Linked DNA regions of Homo sapiens: all the other regions are reported to be linked to region 3. Evidence: microRNA targets listed by miRTarBase, many of them from high-throughput screens and not tested one by one. Region 3 holds a microRNA gene; each other region holds the end of a gene's coding sequence.
Evidence for each region. Region 3 holds the annotated microRNA hsa-miR-548ac (CAAAAACCGGCAAUUACUUUUG, at 5,279-5,300, opposite strand). A microRNA usually pairs through its seed, bases 2 to 8, with sites in the 3' UTR of a target mRNA and lowers its output. Matches are read on the target gene's strand: a 7mer-m8 pairs with bases 2 to 8, a 7mer-A1 pairs with bases 2 to 7 and ends in A, and an 8mer does both.

Region 1: the mRNA of CCNI2 is a reported target of hsa-miR-548ac. Seed matches in the 3' UTR shown: 7mer-m8 at 2,320-2,326.
Region 2: miRTarBase lists DCUN1D3 as a target of hsa-miR-548ac. Seed matches in the 3' UTR shown: 7mer-m8 at 5,936-5,942, 7mer-m8 at 2,395-2,401 and 7mer-m8 at 1,756-1,762.
Region 4: the mRNA of ACSL3 is a reported target of hsa-miR-548ac. Seed matches in the 3' UTR shown: 7mer-A1 at 6,462-6,468.

The regions. Positions count from the first base shown.
Region 1 is chr5:132,751,636-132,759,683 of GRCh38, forward strand. It overlaps CCNI2 (cyclin I family member 2), which reads left to right. Exons shown (of 6, transcript NM_001039780.4): 5 at 331-561; 6 at 1,231-2,768. The coding sequence ends at 1,335. SEPTIN8 (septin 8) reads right to left here. Exons shown (of 10, transcript NM_001098811.2): 10 at 1-546. The coding sequence ends at 381. Among named protein-coding and RNA genes, the nearest start is that of CCNI2, 8.2 kb to the left of the region's middle. RefSeq lists an enhancer at 6-215.
Region 2 is chr16:20,853,641-20,861,853 of GRCh38, forward strand. It overlaps DCUN1D3 (defective in cullin neddylation 1 domain containing 3), which reads right to left. Exons shown (of 3, transcript NM_173475.4): 3 at 1,285-6,729. The coding sequence ends at 6,246. Among named protein-coding and RNA genes, the nearest start is that of DCUN1D3, 43 kb to the right of the region's middle.
Region 3 is chr1:116,554,760-116,562,972 of GRCh38, forward strand. It overlaps MIR548AC (microRNA 548ac), which reads right to left and starts at 5,352; the gene lies at 5,265-5,352. The region is part of intron 1 of CD58 (CD58 molecule); the gene reads right to left. LOC105378925 (a long non-coding RNA gene) reads left to right here. Exons shown (of 3, transcript XR_947739.2): 3 at 1-6,428. RefSeq lists enhancers at 1,825-2,074, 1,848-2,142, 3,819-3,868, 4,920-5,159, 7,759-7,908.
Region 4 is chr2:222,940,202-222,948,414 of GRCh38, reverse strand. ACSL3 (acyl-CoA synthetase long chain family member 3) reads right to left here. Exons shown (of 17, transcript NM_004457.5): 17 at 3,776-6,918. The coding sequence ends at 6,761. It also overlaps the pseudogene LOC100419511. Among named protein-coding and RNA genes, the nearest start is that of ACSL3-AS1, 25 kb to the right of the region's middle. RefSeq lists a silencer at 4,244-4,393.

The DNA of each region.
Region 1 (8,048 bases), not on the chromosome of region 3:
CAGATACAAGTAACTTTTCTGCTACCTTGGTCTTGAATAGTATGTTTCTATTTTTCAGAATGGAAACATTGTCATCTAGGTACTTTCCGCTCATAACGATGATGTCACAAAGCAGACTTTTTTTTTTTTTTGGTCCCGGAGTGGAAGCTCAGCTTGGCCACAGGATGGGCATTAAGCCTCAAGCCCCTTACGGAGCCATGGATAGGAATGAAAAGGGTTGGGCAACATTTGATGTTCCCTGATGGAAATTTAAATTGTTTGCACTTTTGATCATTGATATAGGAAAAGTATGGCGTTTTCTGTTCTAACATTAAAAACCATGGTCTCCAGTTCCATGCCCTGGTGGTCCTGAGCTGGCCCCATGTGTTGGAGCTGCTGCCTCAGAGGAATCCTTCCCTCCACGTCGCATCCCTGACCAGGCAGCTGCAGCACTGTATGGCGGGCCACCAGCTGCTGCAGTTCAAGGGCTCCACACTGGCCTTGGTCATCATCACCTTAGAGCTGGAGAGGCTCATGCCCGGCTGGTGTGCTCCTATATCTGATCTGCTAAAGAAAGCACAGGTAGACATCAACTTTGCCCCAGACCAGGCTCTGTGTTTTGCCCCTTTAGCTGACACACTCTGACCCCAAAGGGGTACCCTTTGCCCTTGTAGCCTCTGGAAAATGTTCTGGCCATAACCCTGGAAAGAGTCTGCCCAAAGGCTAGGCTTTCCACACTTGGTCACGCTCTATGCACTTGAGATGGGACATGTGTTCCCTTCACTGGACCAATGGGGGTGGTCTCTGAGAGTGAGAGAATCTTTATCTCAATGGGAGCCCTTGTAGCCAAGAGGACTGTGGGGAGTCAGGGGTATGTCTGGCTTAGGAGGAAGCAACCCTGAGCTTAATACTGAGGAGCATAAATTCTAAACTCCTTCACCTCTCCTTTGTATGAGTGTGTGGTACCAGGTACAGGGGTACCATGAGGCAAGCATTGTGGGGGCACAAGGAGGAGAGGGGTGTGTCAGAATCCCTCAGAACAGATAGGTTAGGATGGAATGCATAGTTAGACTAATGACAACTTTACTGAGGTTGGAAATGGATGTCCCTGAGATGGTAGGATTAGTGGTCCTTAGTTGGGTGGTTGGACCTTCCTGAACTTGCTTCATGCTAACATTTTGGCACTCAATTGCCAATTTCTTAGAATGTATGATGGTTCTGCTTGAAGATGGCCACTCTATTCTAATACAGGTTGGTGATATGCAGTACAGCTGCTGCAAGGAACTTGTAATGCAGCAACTGAGAAGTCTTCAGTCATCCTCCTGCACAGACAACTTTGTGTCACCTGCCAACTAGCCCCTCTGCCTCCACCCCGGGGCTTTCAGAGCATAGTGTGAAACCTCCTTGCTTGGACTACCATGAGTTCTTTGGCTTGTTATGAATCCTGTAAAAAGGGAAGGTGGCTCTGGAAGAGCAACTGAGAAAAAGTTCCCAACTGAGCCCTTGGAAAAAAAATAAAGGGGAGAGGGGAAAGGCAGGCTGAGGTCAGTAGAGGTCAGGGTGGTCTGATAGACTATGACCCTGTCTTCCCTTTTTCTCCTCTGGGCCTGAAGCCAGGGAGTATGAATGAATGTTCAAATGGCAGCTTGTTTTACCTTCCTTCTCCAGCAAGGGTTGGCATTGGCCCCTGGGAGCGCTGGAATATGAAACCAAGAGGCAGGCCTGGCTCAGGGCTGAAGGGCTGGGGCTAGCTCTGACCAGTTCTTGCTGCTCTACCTGCCAGAGCTGGCCAGGTCCTTCCAACTTCCCAGGCTTATCCCAAACACATATGTGGTGCTTCCAGTCCCAACTACCCTGCCTGCCACTCCTCACATGGGACAGTCTCTGCAGATGCATTTACCCAACCATGGCTATGACTTATGTCTTCCCTTTACAAGGACTGGATTATAAAGTATGCTTTGTTTAATGTAACTTGAGCAAGCTTTAGGCATATCTTTCCTTTGTTACTCTTAAGCAAAGTGGTTTCAGTTATTAGTTTAACTAGAGGGATTTTGTGCTAATGAATGGGTATTATAGGCTAACACCTGTGATGGGAGGCACAGCTCTGAATGCTTTCTGTTGGGATGAGCAGGTTCTGAGGCCAAGCCTGCTCCAACCACAGTGCTGCCAGGAGGAGGAGCCGGCTGCCTCTCTCATGCTGTGCTACCACAGAGCCATTCTCTAAGCAGGGGAGTGCAGCTGACAAAGATGCCAGCTGGGGCTGTGTAAGTTGTGTTGGGGGCATGAATGACTGAGCCACACATTCAGAGGTGGTTTGTGAAGTCTTCCACTGTGAACTATGGTTTTTTTTTTTTTTTTTTTTTTTTGGTGTGTTTGTGTAAATGTGCTAAGCCATGGGGTGGGAGGGGAAAGATTTACTAGGTGCAAAGTGGTCAAGGGCCAGATATACTATAATTGTCTATATTATAGAGTTAGTATACATCTGTATTTTTTCTTGACACACTTTTGCTTGTTGGTGCTTTCGTTAAAATTACACTTTAATTGCTTCCGATCCTGTATGAGTCTTATTTTGAGCTACCATGCATTTAGCCTTGCGAGAGTCAGATACATTTGGAACACTATCTCCTAGGTCATATCAAGAACTCTCCTCTAGTCCAGAACCCATTTTACAGATGGAGATGCTGAGGCCATGCTGCTCACAGCTTCCAGTGGTGGCCGTTGAGTGCCCTCTGCCTCCTTCCTTCCAGTGTAAGTGGGACCACAGTGCATGAGGCAGAAGGACATCCTGAGGGCCCATACCAGTTTAGGCATCCCAGGCTTTAGGGGAACTGCTGGAAGACATCTGCTGCTTAACCAGGTGGCTATGGATGTGAGCTGGATTCTGAGAGCTGATCCAACTCAAACCTCTTGGAGAAAGCAGAGGGTAGACATGTGAGTCCTAGGACTGGGGTAAGAGACAACCTTCTGCTCTGGCTTTCTATAAATGATAGAACTCTTCTATAGGGAAGCTCACTTTTGTATTGCCGAAGTCCCACTCGTGGATTTTTAAAAATCTTATGTGCTTTTCAAGCTTGCCGTGGGGCCCCAGGTCCCATCCTACTTCCCTCTAATATTCTTTTCTGACATTAGGAACTCCTATCCCACCTCAACTCAGAGATTGGGAAACATTTCTCAGGGAGAAATATGGATACAATCTATTTTCCTTTTGACCCCAGCTATTGAAAGGCAGGGATTGGTGAAGGAATGAGGCTGAAGAAAATGGAGATGGAAAAAGCTCAGAGGCAGATGCTATGGCAGAAAGAAAGGTAGGTGGGCTCAGGGAGGAACAGGGCAGGGGGAGCATCATAGACCTGTCTTAAACTTGTCCAAACAGTACTTCCCTGAAATGAATGAGCCAAGTCATTTGATGATGTTTCCACCACCTAGGAGGCCCTCCTCCCCCTGGCTTCCTGGAGAGTCTCTGTCCTTCAAAGCTTGGTGAATACTTTACTTTGCCTCCCTGCTGCCTGCACAAGTAGAGCTGAGCTATGCCTGCATTAGGGATGTGTTCATACCACTCTCCCTGCAGGGGTCCCCATTTTCTCATTTTGGTCTTCCCAAACCTACCTAGTGCTCAATGGAGAAAGCTCCTTAAAAAACAAACCCACATACTTTTTATCACTTCTTTTCACCAGTCTGCTCTTCCTCAGCCACTTTTGCCTGTCCCCTAGGGCTTTCTACCTCTAAAAAACAGTCTCAGGTCCACCAGCCCACACCATCAGGCTGTGTACTTTAACACTAGCCACACTTTCACTACTCTTCCATCATTCCATTGAGATGCCAAGGAGCAGGTGTAGCTCAGGATTTAAGGGTACAGACTACCAGCGTTCAAATCTCAACTTCTCCAGTTACTTGCCATGTAACCTTGGGTAATTACTTAAACCTCTGTGCTTCAGCTATAAAATGGGGATGAATGGTCCCTAATCATAGGATTAGGATGAGGATTAGAGGAGTTAATGCATGTAATATGGTTCCGAGCAGTCCTGGCACTCGAATATTAGTAGTCCCGTGGCAAGCCTTTGTGTTAAGGAGGAACACTCCTCAAGGGCAGGTGCCCCTTTTCTCATGTCCTGCACCCAGTTAACCAATAAAGATTCATGGACCACAGGCTGCCCCTTTACCTTCCTGTAACTTTCCTGTGACTCTTCCCTCCATCCCCCACCTATGCAAGAGCCTTTCACAGATGTCTGTAGCAGGGTTTCCTATTAAAACAATTCCTACAGAAGTAGATCAACCTCCACAAAATTCAAAGAACAGACAAGCTGTATTTTACCACAGTTGTAGCAGATTAATGGGCTCAGGAAACGTTAAATCAGAAAAGCTACTGCCCAAAAAAGACACCACAAAAACTCAAAATAAATGCAAAATTTAATGAAAAAAATAAGTACAAAGTGAATGGAAAAGAACAAAAACAGTCAATGAATGCAGGAGTAAATGAATTAACACGTGAAGCAATTTTAGAAAAGCATGTTAACGTAACAGACTAGCAAGCCACACTTCCTCAGGCCTCGTATCCATGAGCCCCACTTAACAGGGAGCCCACATTTACACATACACAAACATATGCAGTCAGTAATGCACAATTACAAACCACCTAGATCAGGGTACCCACAACTAGAAAGAACATATTTCCACATCGGCCTGGGACAGGTCTGGTTTATGCCTTTTGATCTGGTGTAATTAATAGCATCCCCTTTCTCTCTCAATAGTCCCAATTTGGGCAACGAATTATATGGTGATTCTTCTACCTCAAACAAACATGGTTTATGATAAAGACATGATAGTAAATGCCAACATGATCCTGTAAGACAGCCCTAATAAAGCCAACAAATGACAATGAGAAAAAGAGGGGTAAATGAGACTCTGCAGACAGGGTCACATTCTATGGGGGCTAACTTACTAAACAGTGGCAAGTTTTAAGCTCACTTTATGCACCAAGGTTTAATTTGGTCTCAGCTAAAGAAGACAAAATTCCAAACACAAACAGCAGGGGAGAGGTGCAGTGAGGCTTGCTGGAGGGACCTGTGGAGGCAGCTCAGACCAGAAAACACAAGTCTGTCAAGTGTCCTGAAGATCCTGGGAAGGCTTAGGCCCGCAGGCAGCCAGCCACGAGTATGGCCTTTCAGTATGCCTGGGGTGCGACCCGCAGGCCACAATGGACGAATGGCCAAGTCTGCATACTCCAGAGTCCTAGGTTGGCCCATGAACCAGGAATTCTCATTTCTTATGTATCCAATGAACCTGCTGGGTCACCAGGCCTCATCTTCATAAATATGTTAGCTGAGAGAGGCTATCTTAAAGGTCATGCTCTGACCCAACTGCATACACTTTCAGACATAAAATTACCCTAGAGATGAGCCATTGGCAGCCCACATTTGCCCTGGATATGCCAGTTTACCTTTTTAGATACCCTCACTGAAGCATCAGTTTTCAATTGCAACCAGATACGGACTTATTGTGACGCTAAGGAAGCTTAATCTTCAGGGCCCCTTCCAAGACCCTGTACCTAATTTTATATTAACATTGTTTTTCTTAAAGAAGTCTTTCTAAATAATTCAAGCTTTCAGCCCCATAAAATTTAGATCCACCCCTGGTCATAGCATAAAAAGTTGAATTGTCACTAGAACCTGCTCTGCTGCTGGAGCATGGAGCCCCTCACAGGTAAAGGCTGCCTCTTCCTGGCCGTGCCTCGGTGGACACACACAGCTCACCCCTCCACTTCTCCCTGAGCAGAACATCATCTCAGGAAGGCAGGAGGAAGCCAGGACTTGGTCCTGGAAATCAATAATGCAAGCCAGACAGAAAGGGGGAAATGGTCATGAGAAGGAAGACAGGGGCATGAAAAGCAAACTACCAATTCCACAATAAATTAGCACGTCTTCCTGAGGCTTCCAGCCAGGGAGTAGGCTAGACTGTGAGCTCCTTGAGGGGAGCGTTGTGCATTCCTCTGGGTAGCTCCAGTGCCCAGCACGGTGCTTCAACATTAAAACTACCCTTCCTTTCATTTAGTCATTTTACATCTCCCATTTTACCAGGCCGTATTCTCAACACTGACATTCTTGGTGGCTTGTAAACCAACAGGAGCATAGAAGAGTCAAAGCTGCTAGTACTTCCTTAAAATGTTCCCCTTTAGAGTGCAGCTGAAGGGGAAAGCTCCTTTGCCGCTCATTTTTCCCTAATTGTCTATATACATCAGACACCTTCATCTCTTCACCCTGTGACCCAGCCAGGAAAGAAGCAATGACTTTGAGGTAACAACCTTTTTCCCACTGAGTACTCTTTACATTTGGAATATGCAGGATTTGCTTGGGAGTCTTAATTGGAGTCAAACACTTAACACACACACATGGAGTTGGTCCCTGTCTACAGGTAGCACCTCTGGGGCACAGACAACAGCTTTGGGCTGCTGTTCCATTTACATTCACAGTAAAAACGCTGGACATGGTCTTGTTCATGTTCCAATTCCATCCATAAAGAAATGCCAAACACTGTCATTACAGGAAGTTTATTACCCACCTCTCCCTGTATATGATAGGCATACTTTATACATAAGAAAGGTTTAGCTGTATTTTTAGTTTTTAAAAATCAGGGAATCTGTGTTACTTATGAAAATAATGGGAGAGGATATTATTTGTCTTGACGCTGGTGCCAAAATAAATATTTAGAAGTGTTTTAAAGTTATTAAAATTAAGCTGTAGGTTAGAAAAATTAAAATGAGGGGAACTGGGTGAATTTTGCAGCATGTATACCAGACCACGCAGCTGCACCTAGGGCACCACGTGAGTTGCCATCTCCACGCTGAACAATTAGGCCTAGCATCCCGGCTGGGGCCTTCGCTAGAGCGGCACATAACAGCTCCGTCAGGGAATAGTGACACTGTAAATGGAAGACCAGCCACTGGCTCTGAAAAAAATAAACCTCGTCAGTTTTGGATTCCAGCATTCATGGCTTTTACGTGTTTGCATAGAGAGGGGTGGCCCGCCAGGCCCGGGGCAGCCTGGGGCCAGGGTCGGTGGGAGGAAAGCAAGGCTGTAAACACTGGAGTCTGTACCGGCTCCCAGTCCGTCCTCACACCATGTTATGGGAGAAGGGTCACAAGGTGTAACTCAAGCAACTTAACACATGAAAGTCTAAAGTCCACTCTTGACATGTAAGTCTGTGCGTGCGTTAACTGAAAAATAAAAATAAAACAAACAAAACAAAAACAGACACATTAAAAGATATGCAGACCAAATCAAACAGAAGCAAAAGACAGCAAGATGGACACCGTGAAAGGGCAGTCAGTTTGGCATTTGTGACGAGCAAAGCAGAGAATTCACCTCAGTTTGTGGTGTCCCAGGCTAAGGGTCAAGATCTGATTGGGAAGTAATTTTGCAAAAAATTTGGATTCAAATTTAAAGAGTATGCATAACCAATCAAAACCACTCAAATAAATGGTCATGAAAAACACCCCTGCCCCCATTCCAAAAATGCACTCCCGACTCACACTAGTCCCTTGACCAGGGCGGCAGGAAGGAGTACTCCCAGTCAACCCACCTACCCCATTCCTGGCCTCCACAGAGCCGTCATGGGAAGAGCGTTTTCTCTCCCAGGGACCAAACTGACTGAAGCTTTCTAGCAGGTCCAGAGAACAGGAAAGACCTGTTTTCCAGGCCCAGGCCTGGAGAACGTATCATGGAGCCCAGGCCACATGGGAAAAGCAGGGAGACCAGACACCAGTGACAAGCCCCCACCCCGAGGGCTGTGCTGGTGTCCTTTCAGCCTGCCTGCACCCACCTTCACTGGCCCTCAGACCCTGAACTGGCCACAGACCCCTGTCTGCAGTTGCTGAGTGGTTTCTCCACAGCTTATTTCCTAGGGAATCCTGGCTACCTTTTCTTTAACAAGATGGCAGGAAGCAGGGCAAAGTCACTTTGGGTGCCAGTACCTGGGTCACAGACTCCCGCTGGCCCTAATGGCTAGGCTCCATTGCCACCAAGGAAGGAAGGGCCTGGGCATACACATCCCCAAATATCCCAGGAGGAAATGGA
Region 2 (8,213 bases), not on the chromosome of region 3:
ATACAAGCCCCCAAATCAGTATCCTTCCACTTTATTCCCCAAACCTATTTGTAAGGCTCTGGCTGGGCTCCATAACTCAGAAGTGCCAAAGCACAGAAGAAACAAGCCCAAAAGAGCCAACTGGGGAATGTTTTAGAGGCATACTTTTTAAGTGAGGAAAACATCATCCCTTAAGATTTCCTTCCTGCCCCCACCTGGTCCTGTCCTTAGTAATGAGGAAGAGAAAAAGAGTTGCAGTTCATTGAGGAAATCTCAGAAACCTCTCCCTAATCAGAGAATGTAGACATGACTTCCAGAGCCTTTGCAACAGAAAAGAAAAAGTACACCTACTCCCACCACCATACTTACTTATTTTTACAAGATACCAACATGAGGCTGGGAATCTTTGGGGAGGCCATCAGGGTCTCCATGAAAGAAATGTGTAAGATGGCCAGTCAAGAGCTTTCCTGAATGTAAACAATAACTAGACAGAAAATACAATGGAAGGAAGCTAAGGGTCGTAAGTGGTCTAATCATCATACATCTAGAGTGTTAAGAGGCAGATGGGAATCCCAGGGATCACGTTAGTCTGAGCTTCTTCCCCCATCCCCAATTTGGCACAGAGGGAAATTAAGCCCCTAAGAGGGGCTGTGACTTGTGAAAGGTCATGTATGACCATGCCAACCCCCTCTCTTATTCTCTGGTTTCCCTGCATTACTCACCTAGCATTCCTTTGGAGAACCTTAAAAGAGCTTGTAATGTTTGAGCACTTATGTGTCATTGGGACTTTATCAAGACTTTTAAATCCTAGCACTCTGATGGAACCAAGAGTCTTTTAATTTTGCAGATGAGTAAAAGGAAACTTAGAGGTTCACTAACTTGCCGAAGGTCACATAGCAGTGGCATTTGACAGTTAAAGCCAGATACAGCTTGTTTCCTTTGCCTTAATGCACTGCCATACTGTTAAATCTAGGGGTCATGCATTTAACATACTGCTCAACTTCACTTTTTATTCCTCATGAGAATTCACATCAGTTGCAAAGGTAAGACTATTTAGGCAGTGGCCCTGTGAAGACTTATTTGCTCTTTGCCTCTAAGCACTGAGACCCCCAAAAGCCACCCTACTAAGCTTGGTATGTGGGAGGTCAACACCCATGTTTGGAGTCTGAGGATCCTGTACTTATCTGGATTGTTTTTCAAAGAATAAAAATTGTTACTCAATATCATGTTGGTAGAAGCTCCCAGTGGGTAAATTTTGCCCCAGAATAAAGTCACTGTTTTTTTTTTTTTGTAGAAATATCAATATTCAAGTAAACAAATTTATTAAATCCAACAGCAGGTAACCTTCCAAATAAAAAACATTAAAGGAAAAAATGTAGACATCAAAGACAAAAATGTGTGTAACAAGTCAATAAAAATACTCAAGGGGCCATTTGGAGAGTGCAACAGTGCAGAAAATACAAACAAAAGTATTAACTTTTGTCAAGTTTGTACAACCTCAACAAACAGACACACTGGTCACAAACCAAGAGGGATCCACAAAGGTGGAGGGTCACATGAGCAGTGGACTCATCACCTCAGCGGCTTAAGGCAGGGTATATCTGTGGGACCAATTCATCCAAGCCCCATGTGCCTATTGCTTCACATTCCCCCTTTAAAACCTAGTCATATTCATTAGTGCAACAGGTAAGAGCAATTAAGCACAGACGGAGCTGGGGACCAGGGTCAGAGGGAAGACACTTCTCCCAGAGCAAATGTATGCATGTCAGGGGGATGAAAAACCCCAGCAGCTGCTGAATGGCTTCCTTTGGCAATATCCAAGATTTGTGTTGAAAGGAGCAGGGAGGTTGGATGGGTGGCGGAAGTAGGTATTTATGAGATAGGCTGGGTTTCCAAGAAGAGAAGAATAGGGAGGACATGATGCCCAGCACCTGAATCAGAAGCAGAACCCAATGGTTATGCAAAGCTATTTGAACTATTTTGGCTTCTGCAACCAGTGCTCAAGAATCTATTTCATCTTTCGAAAAGGGGGAAAACCCCTGCCGATCCTCACCAACATGCAGTCCCAGTCCAGTTTAAACTGGATATGCAATTACAGCTTACCAGGGGAATAAACTCTGAGGGGGATGGATGGTTCGGAACCTTCTTTATATGATCAGAAAACACACTGTGGAATAAGAGGAGGATCAATGTCGCATTTCCTCAATGAGTCCCAATTAACACAATTCAACAACCTTAATAGTCCTTTCAGTCGTTTAAACAAGATACTGCTGGAGTCCTCCAAGAAGACCTGTCATTTACCAAGATGTTCAAGTCCCCCAAGGAAGACCTTTGTCAGTTACCAAGATGCTCAAGTCATAGCTAACCAAACATGAGAGACAAGAAAAACAGCAGAGCAGTCAAGTAAAATGCAACAAAAACCTAGCAGCAGCTTTCTTCTACGCCTTAACCTTATAATTGCATAACTGAGTCTACACCTTTTGGGCTTTGCTGCACTGAAGACCTCATTTGGAATCTGGCAAACCAAACATTCTTAAATACATAGGTTGGTGTAAAAGTAATTGTGGTTTTTGCCATACTTAATGGCAATACATTAAGTATGGCAAAAACTTACTTTTGCACCAACCTAACAGATCTGTTTTGGTTTGTAAACTTTTAGACAAGTTCTTATCCCAGTAACTCCCCACCACTGTTTAATACAATTTGGCACAGTATATAGTACATGAGGCCATCGAGTGTAACTACTATGGGACTCCATTTTGGCACCAGCCCCTAGAGACCAGTACTGCTTCAAAGACTAATACTGTGTGGCTTAATCCTTTCTCCCTTTCCAAAAAGACTAGTTTGTGCTTTCCTTGGGGAAGTTTAATATTGAAAACACTGCCTTGTACATTTTCAATTGTTATTTTCCTGGGCCCAGGGGTTTGGTTAAAATTTAGATCTTCACCCAGCTCTAGATTCATCTTCCCTTATCAGAAGGGCAGACATGGTTTCCTGGACCCAACTCACACAGGTGGGCAGCACTTCAGCTGCTGAGACAACCAGCTGAAGCATAGCAAAGCCCCTTACAGGAGGTGGGGTTAAGAACGATACATTGAGATTTGGCAAAGATGGGGGAAAGAGCAATTCAATGAAGCAGCACGTCATCTCATACCATCTTTCCAATAAACTGCTAAAGAAACATCACAAAAGCTGACAAAGCCAGTTGTCAAAACTGAGTTATTTCTTATTTCCCAACACACTTGTTTGTTGTTGCCCTCAGATGTTGCCGATTTCCAAAGTGGCGTCCACATCCTGCCCCTCTCCACATCACCCTGATGTTCTGTTGCTAAGCAAGGAGTGTACTGGCTTATCTGAGGGGCATGCATTCAGCCTCTTACACAGACTTACTGCTCACTCATTAAGTGGCAAACCTATTTCTAGGTTGAAAGGAACAAGACTTTTCACTTCCCAGAAGTATAACTTCAAACCCTACACACACCTCACCTTGGATCCCTTTGCAGAAAAACTGCATTTCTTGTGGTCATGAAAGAGTCAAGCATTGGCCCAGAGCTACTGCAGAAGCTTGAAATCTTTGCTGAGCATCAAGTACTCAAACTTGAAAGGAACTTGTAAGTCCCTCCCTGACTGCTCCCTTTTCTGGCTTCTCATTTGCAAATGGATCAATATAACCAAAAAATAACTAAATGGCTTTTTTGGTGGGGGATGAGGAGGCTAAATAGTTAATTTAAAAAACAACAAAATACATCCACTCTAGTACATCTAATGCACGGAATGTCTTCTTAAAGGGTGGGGAAGGAACCTAGTTTCTCCAGAGTACTCAGGGTCCTGGGCTGCCTGCCTCTTTTGTGCAGCTTTCTCTGATACACTCTGATCTGGGATGGAAAGGGCCTTATCTGGCCAAGAGCAGCCTGGCTTTTCCCTCAGTCAACCACTACCCAATCCAGAACCGGGGAAAATGAGTTGCAAACTGGCTTAATGAAAAAGCAGTCTTTTTAAAACCTCAGTCTGGGTACCCAGCTACAACTGATCCCACAGAACCTGCTGGGACCCCTGGAGACTTATTCAAGAGTCTTATTTAGCTAGAACAGAAGCCAGGCATCTGGCCCAAGACCCCCTTCAGCTTTCTAGCAGTACTATACCGTGGGTGATCTTAAAGTTTCCCATTTGCCCCTCTGAAGGAGGAACTGTCAGGTTTAGGATTTAAAAAAAAAAACAAATTCCAAGTATGTTCCCTATGGTCAATATCAGTTTTAGAAAAATACCAACTGCCAAAACTCTTTAATAATCCTTAAGATGGGAGCCCAGAGCTGTAAGGCTGCTCACAATGGAACTCAAAACATGCAATTCCTGCCCAGGCTGAGAAACATACCTGGGACGCAGCGGGGTATTAGGTTAAGGGAGAAACCTCCAAATGTTTAACAGACAAAGTCTCATTACCTCAAGAGTATAAATATTTTTATACGTTTTTATTTAAAAGATTCCCTTTTTAATCTGTTCCAAAGTGTTGGAAGCTGAACTATACAAGTTCCTGCCACCCATCCTTCCAGTACAGTTTTCTGAGGACATACTTTTTAAATGGAAAAATAACAGGAGGACCCTCTAACTGAAACCAGGTAGGCCCAGAGTGAGCTCCTCAGGCCCCTGTGGCAGCCTGGCCAAAGCTGGCCTTTATGGAGCCAGCGCGTGGAGAAGTCTGGGGAACCGGGGCCCTCCCTCTTGTGAGGAAAGGGCTGAGCAAACTCATGTTCTCTTTAGTGAAATGGTCCAAATTCAGATCCAAAAGCCTCCATTATGGCATTCCCTGGCACTCTTCTTATACTTTATACATTGAAGGCAGCTCCCTCTTTTATGGCCAGTATAAGCAGGCAAAGAAACAAAGGAATATAGATACATATATGTGTATATATATATATTTTATATAGGTAAAATATATACATATTTTATATATGTATATATACATATTTGGGGGTAGGGAAAGGAGAGGAGGGTCATGTAAACCTAAACAGTCATCACATTACCCCAAATGAGCCTGACTTTAACAAAAAGATAATAAATAACTCCTGGGGGTTAAGTGACAACATGGGTGCAGCAAGAAGGGAAAGGGCACAAATTTAACTATTAAATACACTTTGATATTTGTTTGGCAGAGTTCAGGCCAACCCCAGGCTTCTGCCCTTGCCAGACAAGTAAGCTGATGATATTCAAAGAAAAAAATAAAAATATTAAAAAAAAAAAAATTCAAGCAGAGCTCCATACCACAGTTTTCCTTCAAGTCAGTTGGCCGGCAGGCAGTTTCCCGACCACCAGGAACAGAAACTTTGGCTCCAAGGCAAATGAAACAAACAAACAAAAAAAAGTATTTCCACTTACAACATGAAAATACAGAAACTTCATCAAAGAAAGAAAACTATCAAAGAAGTCTACTTCCAGCAAAACTGAGGTAGCACTGCTTTCTCCGCATTCAATGCTTAAGTGGTTCTCAGTACAATGTGTTCTTAAAAAATGCTCACTTGACTGACAGGTGCAGCATGTTGATGGAAAAACTCAACATGAAATGCAATAGGTCAAAGAAGGAATGAGCAAGAAGTGAGGGAAATCAGGGTTCTGGATAAATTAGCTTAAAAGGGGGTTGTCACCAGACTACAAATGCTCTTGGCTGGCCTTGGCTCTCCAAGAGCTCTAAATCGCCTGGGAATTAATGCAATGTGGTTAACAGTTAACACTGCTATTCAAATCTGTGTAAATCTTTAAAAATAATTATTACAACCTAAATTCATCTATGTAAACAGCACTACACACAGTACAGACCTGCCCTGAAAAACAATATGCGAAACTGAGATCTGGCACTGTATCATTTTGTAATGTTAATTCAACCTAACAGTCCCATCCCCCCGCCCTGCTCTATGCCCTCCCCTACCAAAAAAAAAAAAAAAAAAACAAAAAAAAACAAAAAAAAAACCTAAATTTGTGCAAGAAATGGCAGGCTTATTCTATCTGAAGGCTTCAAAAAAAGATACACAACATGTAACCAGGTTCAAATATTCTGGGAGATCCCCCCAAAAAGGAAATAACCAAAATAACCAAAAAAATGAAGAAAGTGCCTAAAACATGATACAGCATTTTAGAGCCCTTTCAGATACAAGGCAGAGAAAGGTGTAAAGTAGAAAATATCCGGATCTTCAGTAATTTCCAAAATGGTCCAATTCCTCAGTTGGCTGCAGGGCAGCTGGCAGATCCTTGCTGCTGCTCCTGGGACAGAGCCACTAAGTCTGCTCCTCGGGACACAAGCCCTCAGGCCCTGAGCTGAGTGCACCTCTCCCTTCCCCTTCTCTTTTCCTTCGCTCCATTTCCCACTCCACAAAGGTGTCAAAGAGACTTGGCCAGGCCTCATCTTCACTGTAGTTGCTGAGGTCAGGGCCAATCACCTGAGTGAAGTTAAGGAACATGTTCCAAGTGTCCCGGGAGATGCCCTTGATCCCCGAGGGGTTCTCTGTTAGGAAGTTTAGCCATTGGTCCAATACCGGAGGATTGTTCTGGGTAAAGACTAGTTTCCACAGGGCAATGGCTATTTCCCGATGCAGTGACCGCTGCCCTTCTTCAGAGTCCAGGCCAAACTGAAATGTAAACCGGTAGAGATCCTTGAATTTATCCTCTTGTTTGGCTTCTGTTAAGAGGCTAGGGAACCGTGCACAGATTCCGTCAATGCTGTCTGCACTTATTGCTTTGCAGCCATCAAAAAACTCCTTCCTGCAACAGAAAGGAAAAGGACAATTAATCATTATAAACTATACTATTTACAGGCAATATACATAGTGATTAAGAGCAAGGCTTTCAGGCCAGATGGTCTGAATTTGAATTCTAACTCCTCCAACTAATTAGTCCTATTTCCTTACTTGTCAAATGGTAAAAATACCACCTTACTTCATAGGGTTTTGGTGAGGACTAAACAAATTACTATTCTGCTTCTAACAGTGCCTGGCACACGGTTGGCAGCTGATAATGGTTCATTTATTCATTCATTCATCTTCCCAAAGCTAAACTCAAGTCTCCTGCTCCCTGCCCTGTTTCCCGCTCTGCAATAGCGATTAAGCTGCGGATTCTTTCTCCTTCCAGAGGAGGAGGCTTCCTGTTTCCCTTCTGATTCTCTATGGGTTGTTTGTTTGGGGTATATTTTTAGAGATTGCCAAGGGAGACTTCTGGAGCCAAGGATTCTGAACCTGAGTAATTCTACCACCAGAGATCAAAATTCTATTATTAAAAAACAAAAATTATGTATGTATTTTTAACATCTATACAACCCTTTCAGCTTACAGCATGGTCTCGCATTGATCGTCTTCTCAGGGACTGTAGTATCTGCTGAAGAGGTGAGGCCTCTGAGGTCTGGAGGGTAACCTTCCTGGGGTGGGGGGCATGCAAACTACAAATTGTATGGCTAGGCCTCACAGTCAGTTCTTATTCACAACCCCGTGCTCTACAAACCACATTCTACAGGGACATATGACCAGAACAATATGCACAGCTACTGCTTAGTAACTGAGGCCAACTGACCTTATTATACACAGGCCTGGCTGAGGGCGGGCAACATGCTAAGTACCAGAAAGGGCAAGTGGCTTCATGGAGGGAGAGAGGCGTATCCCCTCCCCAGAGGCACTTACTATATTGGTACTCACAGTGCAAGTGGCTTCATGGAGGGAGAGAGGCGTATCCCCTCCCCAGAGGCACTTACCATATTGGTACTCACAGTGCAAGTGGCTTCATGGAGGGAGAGAGGCGTATCCCCTCCCCAGAGGCACTTACCATATTGGTACTCACAGTGCAAGTGGCTTCATGGAGGGAGAGAGGTGTATCCCCTCCCCAGAGGCACTTACTATATTGGTACTCACAGTGCCTGGCACATGCTGGGCATACAATAAATATCAAGTGAGTGAACTGACATGTAAAGGAGTAAAAGAAAAGAAAGGTCCAAGACAGCAGTGGGGCCGAGCAGCAACTTGGCCACCTGGCTCACCCTGGCTTATTTCTCATTTAAGGCAAAGATGAGCAGTGCCCAGTTACTCAGAAGCTGCCAAATAATGCTATGATAGGCCTGAAATTTGACCTATGAATTAGGCAAAGGCGTTATTCTGCAAAAAAAAAAAGAAAAAGAAAAAGAAAAAAAAAACCATAGCGTACACATTAGAACCAGACATGAATCTCTATCAAAATCCAAGTGCCTGGGCCTTCCCTGCTGA
Region 3 (8,213 bases):
CTATTATAATATTAAAACTATGTAAATTTTTTTTAAATAGAATTATTCAACCAAGAGGAGGAGTTGTTAAGAACTGTCTCTAAAACTAATATCTACCTCTACTTTGTGTGCATGGGTATATCTATTATTTCCTTCCTACAGTAAAGTCTTTTCTGTTGCACTTCCAAGGCCAACACTAAAGTAAGTTGCTAAGATAATTTCTAATGAACAAAAGAACAATAGAAGAAAGGGGAGTGAGTTTTTTCTCAAAGGTCACAAACCATGGATGAACGAATGAATGAATGAATGAATGAATACACAAATAGGAGCAAAGGAATGGTGTCAACAGTGAGTTTGTTGCTTTGCTGATACCACTGAGTGGTCAGAAAAGGGACTGTAGGGACGCTAATAACCATGCCAGAGTGCAGAACAGAGAGTGCCCAGATTTTGAAGCCAGCAAGGCCCAGGGTGAACTCCCAAAGGCCTCCCCACACTAGATCTCCTCAGCTGTGAAGTAGAAATCATAATGCCCACCATAAAAGATTGTTTTCAGGTTTGAATAAAATTGAGAGTCTTTTTACACTGGTTGACATGGAATAGGCTTTCAAAGGTTTTCTCTCTTTTTCTTTTAATGAGTTAGGTCAACATCAAGGTATTCACACTGTCTGAATTAACTGGGTGAGAACTGGGCATGGGGTGAGTTTTTGCTGTTTAAAAGCAAAGAGAGATGGAGGGAGGGAAAAAATTTTATCAGTGATCGCCTAAAAAGATTTTCTATGCTAGCCAGATAATTTTTGAAGGTTTTTTTGTTTTGAAGAATTTTGAATTTTTTTTAAATAAAGATATGAGGGTACCTAATACCTAATCAGCACTACATGTATAGAGTGATCACATATCTAAAAACAGGTCTGATCTCAAATATTCTGTTGCAGTGTTTCTACAAAACATCAACACCTCAATTTTAATAGTTCTTTTTGTATGGCCTGAAGTTGTAACTGGAACCCAAGTTTTATAGATGAAGTATCCTGATTTCTTATTTAGAAAATCTGGTCACCGTTAACTATGGGTTAATGAAAAGGAACTCTCAACCCCCAGCACAAATTCCTCTGCAAATTATTACTCAGGGCCTGAGATTCAGATTGACTGGTACTTTTTTTTTTTACTTAATCTAACACTTGTATGGCCCTGGCTCTGTGCCAGGCACTGTTGCAAGGGCTCTATAAATAGGTACTCACCACTGGGAGCAGTGGCTCATGCCTGTAATCCCAGCACTTTGGGAGGCCAAGGCAGGTGGATCACTTGAGGTCAGGAGTTCCAGACCAGCCTGGCCAACATGGTGAAACCCCGTCTCTACTAAAAATACAAAATTAGCTGGGCGTGGTGGCACTCGCCTGTAATCCCAGTTACATGGGAGGCTGAGGCAGGAGAATCGCTTGAACCCGGGAGGTGGAGGTTGCAGTGGCCAAGACTGTGCCACTGCACTCCAGCCTGGGTGACAGAGCAAGACTCCATCTCAGAAAAAAAAAAAAAAAAAAAAAAAAAATCAGAATCCTAAAAACATATTAAGAAGGTTTTATTTCTAACCTTATTATTTTGCAGGTGAGGAAACTGAGGCACAACAATGTTAAGTAATGAAGCCAGATTTGAACCTGGACAATCTGACTGCAGAATCAGTGCTCTTAACCATTGTTTCTTATTTAGCTTGCTACATGGCATAAGGCTCTTAAAGATAGTGACATGATGCAGGGTTTCTCAGGATACAATCTATAGACAGCATTGGAACAGCAGATGTTGCAAATGAGAAAGTCAAACTGAGTTAAGCACACCTCCAAACCTACAGGTGAGGCACTAAGCTCTGTGGTTTCCAAATCATCGAATGCTAGAGCTGAAGAGGGCCTCAGAGAGCAAGACTCCAGTCAAGGAAGAAAAAGCCAGACCAGAAACAATAAAAAGAAAACGAGCAAACAAAGGAGTCACAAAGAAACAGAACTGTGGCAAATGACGCATTAGACGAAGACCAGCAATTCCACCCACAGAGGAGATACCAGCGGGCCAAGTGTGAGTCAGAAGGGACTGGTGAGGACTTGCGCACCAGTGAGCCTACAGGGAGGGGCCTGCCATGTGGAAACAGGAGCTGTGCCTCAGCTCCTGCCATGTGGAAACAGAGGCCCACCATTGCCAGGTTCCCAATTTTTCAAAAAAAGCCAGATATTCACATTTTGTGTGAAAATTCCTGTTCTTGAAAGTTGGCAACTAATTCAAATCTGAGCTTAGGGGTAACCCCAGCCAGGCTAGCCCTATCAGGACAAGGACAAAGGTGTTCCTGTTTTTGGCTGTATCCCCATATGTCTGGCATATGGACTTTCAATAAATATCTGTTGAATGAATTAACTAAAATGATTAAAATACAACTTAAATGTAGTTCAAAAGATAAGGCTTCCTGACAGAATAGCAAAATTTGACAGTCACCCCAAACCCTGGGCTTTGTGAAATCCCAAATTGCTGTGGAACCTGGCTGAAGAAGGAGGACTTCGTAAGGAGAGATGGAGAAAGAAGTTTAACTGGAGCTTAAAAATAAAATGGCTCAGGAGCCCTCATATACAACCAAAACAGACTCAGTTTTTCAGCCCCACTTTCTGCCTCATCACCAAAGCAAGATGGGAGGACCTGCGGGCTCCACCTTCCCAACTCCACAGCTGTCCCTTTTGAGATGTTCCCTCTCAAGTTTAAGTAGATTTTACCAACTAAGTGTTATAGGATGCAGGGCACCACACCAGATAAACTTGTACCCACTCATGGATGTCAGCCCCAATCAAACTTAACAGCCTCGCTATGGTTTGAGGAGGTTCACTGATGTCATTTCTTTCTTTTCTTTCTTTTTATTTTTCTCTTTCTTTCCCTCTCTCTCTCCCTCCTTCCCTCCCCTTCCTTCCTTCCTTCCTTTTTCTTTTTGGAGACAGGGTCTCATTCTGTCACCCAGGTTGGTGTGCAGTGGTGCAATCGTGGCTCACTGTAGCTTCAACCTCCTGGGCTCAAGTGATCCTTCTGCCTCAGCCTCCCAAGTAGCTAGAACTACAGTTGCATGCCACCACGCCCAGCTAATTTTTATATTTTTTGTAGAAACAAGGTCTCACTATGTTGCTCAGGCTGATCTCAAACTCGTGGGCTCAAGTGATCCTCCTCCCTGGGCCTTCTGAAGTGCTGAGATTACAAGCATGAGCCACCATGCCCAGCCAATGCCATACCTTAGAGACAAGCTAATCACTCTTCCGGGATTTGAAGGAAAGGGTTTTCTTGAGTTTGTTCTTAGAAATAAACAATGTAATTTTAAGATACTTCTCTCTCTCTCTCTAAAATATTTTAAGGCTCACACTGCCTGCAGATTTTAGCAGGTAAAGTAAAAGTTCATTTGACCAAAAAAAAAAAAAAAAGAAAGAAAAAAGAAAAATTCCCTTAAAAGTTTCAGTACCTGAATATATGAATATTGGTATTTCCCTCTGAATATAAGACATCATAATGGTGATTCATTTAAAGCCTCGTGCAAGCCCAGAGATAGCAGGGTCTTGGGGCATTTTTGCTCCCAAGTGAGCAGATGGATTTCTCATCTGGATATGGGTCACTGAGCACAGCCTTGTCCCTCTCACTTCTCTGCGTTTGGTCTTCACATCACGGCACATTTTCAGTTGATGCCTACTTGCAGTATCAGGATGTGTGGCAATCTGGGAAGCAACATCTCTATCTACACACCCATATATGCATTTATAGTATTGAGGAGCGGCCAATCTCCTAAAATGTCTAGGCTAGTAATTGTATCAAATAACCTGTCCTATTAAGGCCATAAATATTCTCATATTAGTCAGTCCCAATTTTGGGGGTAGAAAATGTGCTTACCAGGCATGGAGATAATAAAGAGGAGTAGCACTGTTTGTTTTAACTCAATCAAGTTTCATACAGTTGTGACTCTTGCCTAGCTCTTAGCAAGTCCAATCCAAGGAGCCCTAGGCCAGCTCAGCCTCAGTAATAATATTTAACAGTAGCAGCAGCACGAAGATTCACTGCAGGCTTACTATGTGACAAGCACTTGTTCCAAGAGCTGTTTGTGTATTAACTCATTTAATCCTCAACTCAACTCTGAGGTAGTTCTTATTATTCATTTATTTGTTCATCAAATGTTCATGGAGTCCTGCCTATGTGCCAGACACTGAAATAAGCAGGCAGGATATAGCAATGAACAAAACAGACAAAATCCCAGCCCTCTTGGAGTCTATTTTTCAGTGGAGGGAAGAACATAATAAATGAAAAAGTAAATATCTTTTATTTGGATGATGTTGGATGATGTTAAGTGCTATAGAGAAAAATAAAGCAGAGTGTGGGGGCTGAGGAGTACTGGTAAGGAAAGGAGTTGGATGGCATGGGGGGCAGTCATAAGTTGGCATCTGAGCAGAGTCCAGAAAAGCAGGGGAGCGAGCCTAAGAACATCTGGGGTGAGAGTGAGAAAGGAGTTATTTCTTGAGAACACGCCTATCAAAGTAAGGTGGTTTGCTCCGCTGGACACTTGGTTGATAGAGAAGGTCAAAGATTCCGAAGCACCAGGCTACAGATGAAGAAATGGACTGAGAGGGTCAGCTGACTGCATTCACTCAGCTAGCAAGGGGCAGAGCTGGTGTCCAGACACAGGCAGTCGGCCCCAGAGCCTGCACTGTTGGCCAGAACATCAGATGCCTTGGTTGGGGCCATTCCTCTTTTTTCCTGATCGATTCCACCCTTAGCCGGTCCCAGTTAGTGACTTCTCTTATTTCCTTAAGACAGAGATTTACTGATTTCAGCCACACCACCACCAGTTTCCCTGCCCTCATCTACTTCATACTGAAACTGCAGCCACCTGTCTCCCAACGGTTACAAACCCTCGGTCCCCAAGGCCAGAGCAAGGTTCCCGGACCTTGCTCTCAGCTGTCAATCTGCCTCCTCGATAAGTTCATCAAGAATTAAGATGTTGGTTCTCTAAATCAACTTCTTTCTGTACTTTCCTTCTAATATGATGCTAAAATAGTTTCCTTTTTAATTCTTGTTCTTGCACTTAACCTATTTCTTCTTTCTCAAGATGTTTCCCTTTAGACCTATGCAATCCATCAAAGTAGCTACCAGCTACAAGTGGCTAGTGAGAACCTGAAATATGGTTAGTTCAAATGGAGATGTGTTCTGAGTATCAAATACACACCAGAATCTGAAGACCTGGTATTAAAAAGTGGAACATAAAATCTCTTGTTAATATTTTTTTGTAGTAACTACTAGGTTAGTGCAAAAGTAATTGCCGGTTTTTGCCATTAAAAAAAAATAGCAAAAACCACAATAACTTTTGCACCAACCTAATACATGTCGAAATGAAAATATTATGGATATATTAGGTTAACTAAAATATATTATTAAAATTAATTTCACATGTTCCATATTATACTTCTATTTGAGAGCACTTCTTTAGCCTGTTGTTTCAAGACACTCACATCCCACCTTTCTCAAAGGCCACATTTGTCTTTGACTGTTCTCACCTTAGATAGGATACAGCTGAGATCCACAGTATGCTTTAGGGAATAAGGTTCTTACTAGATCGGTTAAGGCTGTGAGTGTTTTTAAATCTATTCTCCAAAGTCTGATTCAAGGTATTTCAATACAGTACTGATCATTTCACTAAAATTCCTTGAGAATCCTTGTTATTTTCTAGATACTCAGTTCATCGTTGGGAAACTCTATTGCAAGTAGTTTACAATGGCACAGCCTCATTAGTTTCTTATTAATCTGATTTTTTATTTTTTTCTGAATGTGTATGTTAAACTTCAATTTTCTTCTAATTTTTAACTGGCATAGGAAGAAAATGTTCAAGAAACTACAGACTGGTCAGCCCAGTGGAAATTCAGGCACTAATCTCAACAGACATTTTGGGGAACATTGTAAAGTAAGCAAAGTTCACTAGAACCTATAAAGTAACCAAAAAGCATTTTCCTTGGAGGCTGATGGGCAGGCACTGAAAGTTATCTCCAAAGAGGAACTGCTAAAATGTTTTCCCCTCCTTTTCTAGGGACAGTCTCTGTATCTTATAGTCACACTTTATATTCAAACCTGAACTTATCTGAGAAAAGAGAAACGGCTGCATCCTGGTTTCACTTACAACCCTGAGATGGAAGTTGAGATTTGTCATTGCAGAATTTAAGGGTCTGTGTCCTTAAGTAAAACCTTCTGGTCACCCCTCAAGTAAAGCTTCAAAAAAGCTTAGGCACTTGTGCAGAAACAGCATGAGAAGAAACCAAAAGGCAGAAAACTTACACATATAAGGGCTGATTTATGCAAAGTTTCTACTTTTAAACAGAGAAACCAATACCTACCCTCAAAGCCTGTATTTACTAAAGAAATGTTAGAGTGACAAGGAGGTCAATAAAATAAATTATTCAAATCTGGTTCTTAAAAAGAGGTTCTAAGACTATTTTAAAACTTCTGAAAGATGCCCATCAAAATTAAAACAAAAAAACATAGCAACGAATACAATGAGTGAAACTTGATTAGATCCGGGTTTTTTAACAAAAGACACTCTTGTGACAAGTGGGGAAATCTGAATACGGGTAAAAGTTAGGTGATGTTACAGGATTAGTGTTAATATTTATAGATGTTATGATGTTATTGAGATTATGCAAAAGTGTCTAGGAGTGAAATGTGGGTACCTAGAGAATGTAAATATAATAATGTTAATAATAAATATGTCAATAAATTGCCATTGTAAATTCTATGTCCCAAAGAAGCACCCCTCACCATTACAAATTATGATATTAAATACAATTTTGCATGACTGGTAATTGTGCTGACCTATATTTCCCATGTTTTAGCAGAATTTCATTGGACAATGTATACATGTTGGATATAAGAAATCAGTAGTACTCATCTTCAAAAAGTTGCTTAGTGGATCTCAGGCTAGGGATACAACAGAGCATATAAAGGAATAGGTTCTGATTCAGAGAGAATCAAAGTTCAAGTTCACTCTGCCACTTATTTGCTGTGTGAACTTGGACACATTACTGAACCTACCTAAGCTTTGTTCTCCTATTAAATGTTCCCTATGTAATAAAATCAGTGTGACAATTAAATAAAAACATCTCAAATCTGAAGCATAGCTCCTGGCACAGAGCAGGTACTTACCTCCTAGTGGCTATTATTACTTACACTCTGTTATAACACTGGGCCTAGTTTTCCTATAGGAACACACAACACTATTTTAACTTGGATTATCTTTGCTAAATAAAAAAACACAGACTGTCTAAGTCTCAACTCCAGCAAAGCACATGAACAAGTCTCACATAATAATGTGAGATAATTTCAAATGGAGAAATGCTGGACAAATACATTGTCATCTAATGTTCAGATTCAACAATCTTTACTATTAAAAAAAAACAGATCAATATAAGGAAAATTTTAAAAAATAATACATGACTTCTGCATACAAGGAACTTAAAATCTAGTTATGCAGATAGTTGGCAATAAAGGATCTGTAAAATGTCAACAACAGCAGAATAAGACAGACTCTGTTAATAATAAAATAGTTCCTACCTTTTTATTTTTTATTTTTTTGCTCTGTTACCCAGGCTGGAATGCAGTTGTGTCATCATGGCTCACTGCAGCCTCAAATTCCCAGACTCAAGCAATTGCCAGGCTCATCTCAGCCTCCTGAGTAGCTGGGACTACAGGCGTGCACCACCACACCTGGCTAACTTTTTGTAGAGATGGGGTGTATTAGTCCATTCTCGCACTGCTAATAATGACATACATGAGACTGGGTAATTTATCAAGGAAAGAGGCTCAATGGACTCACAGTTCCACATGGCCAGGGAAACCTCACAATCATGGCAGAAGGCAAAGGAGAAGCAAAGTCATGTCTTAATGGTGGCAGGCAAGAGAGAGCGTGTGCAGGGGAACTCCCCTTTATGAAACCATCAGATCTTGTGAGACTTATTCACTATCACAAGAACAGTATAGAGGAAACTGCCCTCATGATTCAATTATCTCCACCTGGCCCTGCCCTTGACACACGGGGATTATTACAATTCAAGGTGAGATTTGGGTGGGGACACAGCCAAACCATATCATTCCACCCCGGCCCCTCCCAAATCTCATGTCCTCACATTTCAAAACACAATAATGCCCTTCCAACAGTCCCTCAAAATCTTAACTTATTCCAGCATTAATCCAAAAGT
Region 4 (8,213 bases), not on the chromosome of region 3:
AAGCTGGAACAAACAGAACAAGATTGATAAACAAGGGTATAGTTGAAGGGAGCTTTCAAAAAATATATAAATATGAATGGGATTAGAAAATAAAAGGGTTTCTAGTTTCTTCTTTACTAGAACACTTAAGATAGCTTCAAATATTTTTTCTTAACAATTGATAATTTTGCTAAGATAAAAAATTTTAAAGCTTATGGTCCATATTTTAAGCTAGGCTTCTTTACACAAGCTTGACTTTTTATTGTAGGAGTAAGTAAAGCCAATGTAAAGAATTTTGAAAGTATGAAGAGAAAAATGTCAATTACAATTTTTGGCCAATGATTGCACATTTCTTTCTAGACTTTTCTCTATGAAATATATACACAACACACACACACACACATTATGACATAAAGTGCCTACTAAATTTTGATTCCTACTTTCTTCCCCCATAAAATTCATAGTATGAAGTCCTCCTCACAATATAAAAAGCTGTATAAACATTTTTTGTGCCTCTATGATCAAGTGGATAGTGTCTAATATTTACCTGATATCTTACTTTAGTGCACTTGTTTCCAATTGATGGATTGCTATAAACAACTTCACAATGAAGGTCTTCCTGAAGAAATCTCAACCCGCGTCTCTTGAGTATTTTCTAAGGTCAGATTCCTAGATGTGGAATTAGTGGGCAAACCATAGGAACTTTTTTAAGCCTCTGGTGCATCTCACTTTCCTACATGAGGTGAACTGCTGATGTGCTGAACAGGGTAAAAACAGATTTGGGTGGCTATTTTTGACCATGGCTACCAAAAAGCCATCTTTTCTTACATTTGTGGAAACGTTTAAAAGAATTCTAAGGCCGGGAGCGGTGGCTCACGCCTGTAATCCCAGCACTTTGGGAGGCCAAGGCGGGTGGATCACCTGAGGTCCGGAGTTCGAGAACAGCCTAGCTAACATGGTGAAATCCCGTCTCTACTAAAAATATAACATTAGCTGGGTGTGGTGGCAGGTGCCTGTAATCCCAGCTACTCAGGAGGCTGAGGCAGGAGAATCACTTGAACCGGGAGATGGAGGTTGTAGTGAGCTGAGATCGTACCACTGTACTCCAGTCTCGGCCACAGAGTGAGACACTGTCTCAAAAAAAAAAAAAAGAAAACAGAAAAAAAATTCTCGGAGTTCTTGCCCCAATGCTCTCAAGACATCCAAAACATTCAAACCAAGAGAGGACTGGAGTGAGGATGGCGTTAGTGCTAAGGCTGAGCAGAGAGGTATTATACAGGGCAGGCAGAGCATCTAGCAGAATAAGGGACTGTGCCCTGGCCACTCATGGAGGTCCTCAGATGGGGTGACTCACAGCGGGGTTGGGAGCTTTGAGGACAGCACATTGCTGGGTTGTTAGAGCTGGATGTTTTATATGTGAGCACCTTCCCACACAACACCATTCCTTTCCCGCCAGGCCTGAAGCCCCATCCTTCCAGGCCCCCATTAAAGGCATTAGGACTTTTAAGTCTTCAACATCCTCCTTTTCCCAGATTCCAGACAAGGGCCTTCTGAGCGATAACAGGGCCCAGAATATGGCCATGGGGTTGACAAAGTGGCAGGGCTAGGCAGCGCGTTGGAGCTATAGGCTTCTATACATAAACATTTTGAAAGTTGGGGCATCAAATTATTTGGACAACATAGTTGTTTTTCATTTCTATTTTGAGGAAAAATGTGGAATTTTGCCTTTATCACAGAACAAATCTTGCAAAGCTATGTTCTTCTGATAGCTATAATCTTTTTTCTTGGGAGTCAGGGGTGGGGAAGGCATACATACAGCCCTCCTAATAAACCCTCATCCTGTGCCACTCTCTTATACCTTTTGTATTCTTAATATGATTATGGTCATGAAGAAAAATCAAAGTGAATGATTTACTTCTACATGTTTCATGATAAAATACAAACCCTTTACAAAGAAATACTGATAGATATAAGCCACATAAACAAACATTCTGGAGTTCTCAATAATTTATTTCAGAACATAAAGAGGTCCTGAAACCAGAAAGTTTGAGAACTACTGCCTTAATCAACATGAGAAAAATCATACAGGTGAGAAATCCTGTGAACATAAAGTATCTAAAATCTCTAAAGACTGCTCCTCCTTTGTTCAACATGTGAGAGTTCATGTAAGTTAAAAAACCAAAAACCTACGAATATAAAGAAGGAGGGGAAATCTTAAGCAAAAAGCGTCGTTTAGTAACCAGTAAAGAATTAATACTGGAGAAACTCCACAAATGTGGTCAATGTGGAGAATTTTTCCCTTGTAGCTCGCCTGGATTAAACACGAAAGAACTCACACTGGGAAGAAACCTACAAAGGCAGACGGTGTGGGAAAACCTGTAGCTATAGCTCTTCGCTCTCTCAACATGAGAGGGTACATTCCAGAGAGAAAAACTGTAAGTGCACTAACATGGAAAAACTTTCAGCATCAAAACATTCATATGGGAGACAAACCTTGTTTCTATAAAAGTAATCCACGCAGAAAAGTCACTTTTTTATAGAACAAAAAACCCACACAGAACAACCTTTCTTCAGAAACAAATGAGAATGAATCTAAGAAAAAAATCACCAAATGCAGGAAGTTGCTTTTGAATGAATCCCACCAAAGGGAACACAATTCAAAATCACTAAATAAAGACACTAATGGGGAAGGGTTTGCTGAAAAGCATTTTGGAAAATCCAAACCAGAAATAGGCATGTAACATTAGAGGATACGTATGCACTGTTATAATAATTTCGTTAACACTTCAAATTCACTCAAAACCAGTTACTGAACACCTCCTCTGGGGGCCATGCATGCACCATGTTAAGGCATCTGGTTTACAGAGGCGATTCTGAAATGGACAGGCCCTTGCAGACTATATGCTTGCATGTGGACCAACTAATTAGGAGGAAATCAGAGGCAGATTTTATCAGATTGAAGATAATGTTATTACATAAATCAGACTATAGATCTGCATATAACCGGTTTCACGTTATGCCATAAAAACCATTCCATGACACTATAGACCAGCCTCATCCTAAAATCATTTGCATATTTGGTGTGGTAGAAATATTGTTACCAATGTTTAAAAGAATAACCTGAGCAAAGTTAATGAGGAGAAATTAGGCACAACTGTCTAAGTTAATGCAAAACACACAAAGATGCCAAATGTTTATGTAAAGAAAGCTTTAACTGGTTTTGTTACAGGATTACACACAGAGACAAAAGTATGCTATGATAAAGTTACATATACCCACAAATATTGACTGGCAGTCAAAGATGGGGTGGGTGAGGGAGGTTAGTTTCTGAAACACAGCATGATACAACTCTTCCTCCCACAATTATTGGATTAAATGTTGGCACAAAGTTTAGATATTTCTGCCACATTGTAGATTCTACCCCATTAATTTTGATGCCAAATTTCAATTTACCACCTCTATTCAAGATTTTATGCTGTATGAATATTTTGGAATTTAAAATGCTGACAGTATATCTTCTGGGCAGTCAGAACCAAAAAGGAGGAATGGAAAGGAGGAATTCGGGAAGGGTTAGGGGAAAGTTAGAATATAAAAAGGCTAGGAAATAGATTATTAACAGAATTTCTAGAATAAAAAGTTTTCCTTTGGTTAGGTTGTTAGGTCAGGATGGAAAATTCCCCAAACTCCTTCTTCAAGTATTTCAGGAATGTCAATGAAAGTTTCACTTTTACAGGAACAGCTTTTCTTAAAAACCAAAACCAAAAAAAAAAAAAAAAAAAGCCAATATATTAAGAGCTTTAATATCAGAAACTTCAACTTTTATAGATCTTTATTCTTCAAACTTTATGTCAAATTACAAATAAATAGTCCATACCATGTAGCTCTTTATGATACACGTCTTCAGGCAGAAAACAGCAACAACCAAGAACACATCGGAAATGAACTCACAGTAAATAACCAATTTTAAGTAGAGAAAGGATATATGACATTTCAGTGTGGTCCAATATGTACACTGTTTAAAAGCGGATCCCCCTGTAAAACATCACAGATGTACATAATTCTTATGGGAAAAAAAGAGCCCACACATCAGAGATTTTTAAAAGTTTTTTCAAAGTTGTATCACAGGGACTGGTTGTTTAAAAATGGCAAAATCTTGAGTATTTTAGCAGCAAACAAGTAAGTTATTCCAGGTTAATCTATTTTTAAACGTTGCTGAAAAAGTTGCAAGCTTTAGAGAACATTATAAATATCAAATCCACTACTGAAAAGCAAAGTAGTATTTAGAAAGTAGATACTACTTTCAGGTTTGTTCTGTGTCAGCAAAAACTTTTTCATGAAGTTTCTGCTAAGAAGGATGTCAGTGGAGGAGCAGTGGGGAAATAAATGGAGGTGGCCACCAGTCTTGGCTCTAAGTTGCTAAACTTACTGGAACATGTAATGCTTACGAATTCTTCATAGAGCTTAGTTTATTCCCAGTAAACAATAGTTCTTAAGAACCATTCTTTTAGATCTGTATCTTATTGTCAGATATTTGTATTAGATTTAGCAATTTGAAATTCCTTAAAATTTTGCTCCCCAAATATCTCCTGGTTAAACCAGTATTTCTTATATGAGTCATAATTGAGTGGTTTTTTCATTGAACAGTTTTTTCCTCTTGAAAGGGTAATTTTAGAGGATATTATTTTTTAAGTCACTAAAGATAGTTTTGCTTACAGACAAATTTGTTTAAAAGGGGACTCTACTTAATTTCACTTTCTACTGTGGCATTTGACACCTGGCATCTGACATTTTAGGACTGAAAGGAATTATAAACTTCATATGAGAAAACAAACGAAACTAAATAGAGTTTAAGCCTGCCTCATTAGATGGTTCCATCAGTGATCAGCTACATAATTCATCTGACACTATTTCAAGTCACAATTATCAGTATCTCTCCTTTGAAGCATTCACACTTTTTTCCTAGATACAATCTCCTTTTTTTAATCATCTGAAAGCAAACAATTATTCTAAAGACAAGGCATCAGAAACAAATTCTCTCCGCCCACTGAGATTTAATTTTTAGATCACAGCATCCTCATATAGAAGTTCCATTCAATATTTTTACTTCTTCTTGGCAGTTATCCCAAACATTAATATTTAATTATGAAAAGAGAAAAGCATTCAAAACATAATACAAATATACAATACAAGAAAAGTTGAAAACAAAAAACACTGTATTGCAATGTCTCCACATACGATGTTTGTGATGCAACCAAACACACACTACACAGTCCTGGCTGCTCCTAACACTCCCCTTACTTTACACAGACCTAGGTTCATCTTTTTTTTTGTTTTTGTTTTTTTTTTTTTTGATTTTTGCCTTTTGATGCCTACAGTAACTGAGAATCAACAAAGTAACTAGTCTGACATGAAAAATGTGGTGCCTATGATTTAAGTCCTGATTTGAGCACATCTTAATTGGTGCACTATTGCTTTTGATAATCCAGATATAACAACAGACAAGCAGTAATAAATGAAGAGACTATGTATCACACAAGCAAGGTTTCTGAATTACAAATAACTTCAACAATGACATCAAAACCTATGAATTAAATCTTAACTCACGCGGTTATAAAGTTAAATTCTCATGTGTCTTAGTGAGAATGCTATCATCAAATACATTCTAAATTCTTTCATTTTTTAGTGTACAAAGGTTATGGGAGAAAGGATAAGGTGCTTTTTAAATAAGCTACCACTGACTCACACACATCCATACACGCATCAGTGCAAACTAGGAAAAACACTAATTTTAAAATGAAATAATGATTATCTAGACTAAAAGGAGACTTTGAGATAGAATAATTTTCCATGACTAATTTGTTTACAAATATAGATAACTCAATGTACATATAGTCAACGAAATATTCAAAGAATAACTTTATATACTCTTGTTCTTTAAATTCTATCCTCTCTTTCAGAATTCTTCCATTTAAGTTTGGGTATTTTCCTAGTTTCAACAGATGAACAGAAGACTTCATTGAACATTTTGACAGTAAGCTACTAGAGACCAATTATCAACTGGTGCTACACATGCTGTGTTATCTCCCTTACTATTAAACTATAACCCTCTCTTGCTATTTTGTTTCATGCATCACCAACCAAACTTCATTTTTTCTAATAAAAAATAAATATATAAAGAAGACACTGACAGGCATATATTCACAAGATCTCAACTTCTTAAAACATAAGTATGGGTATATTTATTTCTCTCAAATGCATACAAGACAATAATTACACAGCAACAAATCTTTTGTTCAACAATGATTTGATTCATAAGCATTTGAAATTTACATAATTTCATATCAATACCCTTGTATTTTTAAATACAGTAAGTAAAAAAGCCCCCAAATAACCAATTCTTATATTTCCTATTTATCCCTCTATACATCCAAACTTTTAAAAAGTTACAAACTGAACATTATACAGAACATATAAATCATGTTTAAAAACTTGAGGTTTTAAAATCACTGCTTCCCCAATATGATTCAGAAAAATTCTCATACTGACAAGTACAGTCATAGGTGGTAAAGTAAGTTGGTGGCGGGGAAAATGAAAGAAGAGACAGACACAAGTTTGCTGTCTTAATGTTTTACTAATCCTGTCAGTTAAAAATGGTGACGTCATGAGAAGTAATAGTTTAATATGAGGAATGGAGTTTGCCTTGCAGCTTGAGACATGCATTTCAAGTATTTTCCTATTTGATCTGAGCTCACTGTAGCAAACTGATGCCAGAAGAGAATAATTATTTTCTTCCATACATTCGCTCAATGTCCGCCTGGTAATGTGTTTTAAGCTCTTTGCGTTTCAGCTTGAAGGCATCTGTCACCAGACCAGTTTCAGGGGTCCACGGTTCAGGACTCAAACGAATTTTTACTGGAATTTCAAACTTTTCCAGACTTGCTAAGATGATTAAAAAAAAAGAAAAGAAGAAAAGGTATTTAAGTTCTTAGCAAATGGTGTAACTTCCCCACTTTTTGCGTATCCATCAAAATGCACAACCAACAAGTGAACCATGAATGTCACTTCTAAAGAATCTATTCCTCAAAATACAAACATAAGTAAAACAATAAACTATTTAACAAGTCCCCATCAAGAGGAAAATGAGTTAAATAAAATATGATATAGGAACAAAATAGAATATATATTCTGTCATTGAAAACGAGTTAGAGCCAGGCATGATGGCTCATGCCTGTAATCCCAGTAACTCTGAAAGCTCAGGCAGGAGGATCGCTTGAGGCCAGGAATTCAAGGCCAGCCTCGGTAACATAGCGAGACCTTGTCTCTAAAATAAGTAACTTAAAAATATTTTTTAATAGAAATAAAAAATATAAGCTGGGTATAGTGGCATACGCTTGTAGTACCAGTTACTCAGGAGGCTGAGGTGGGAGGATGACTTGAGCCCAGGAGATCTGAAGATGCAGTGAGCTATGATCGTGCTACTGCACTCCAGCCTGGGCAACAGAGCGAAACCCCATCTCATTTAAAAAAAAAAAAAATTACATTTAGACAGGTATCTAATAGGGTATCCAATATAGTCACGCATCTCTTAATGACAGGGATATGTTCTGAGAAATGCATCACACACTTGGCAGTTTTGCCATCATGGGAACATCATAGCATATCTTACACGAATGTCGATGGTATAGCCTACTATATATACATCTAGGCTGCATTATCTAGCCTACGGCTCCTAGGCTACACACCCGCACAGCACGTTATTGTACTGAATACCATAGGTAATTGTAACACAATAGTTAAGTATTTGTGTATTTAAGTGTATCTAAACATAGAAAAGGCAGTAAAAATACATTATAATCTTACGTGACCACTGTCATATATGCAGTCTGTGTCTGTCACTGACTGAAACTTCATTATATGCTGCATAAATGCCTATTGTTAGGTTAAAAAAAAAAAAAAAAAAGACAAGTTCCAGCACAGGCTGCATAAACTTATATGCACCTAGATGTGAGGAGAAGGATACATACCAAGCTATAAACTCCACACCTCTAGAGCCTGGTATCCAGGAGAAAGGAAATGGGGAAATTCACCTTTTCCTTTATGCCTATTTGTTTTCCTTGAATTTATTATGCAGAGCACATTTACTTCAGAAATTAAAAAATAATAAAGTTTAAGACAAATTATGTCATTGAACCAGGATATTCCCTACAAGCTATGTGGATACAGAATGCTTGCTC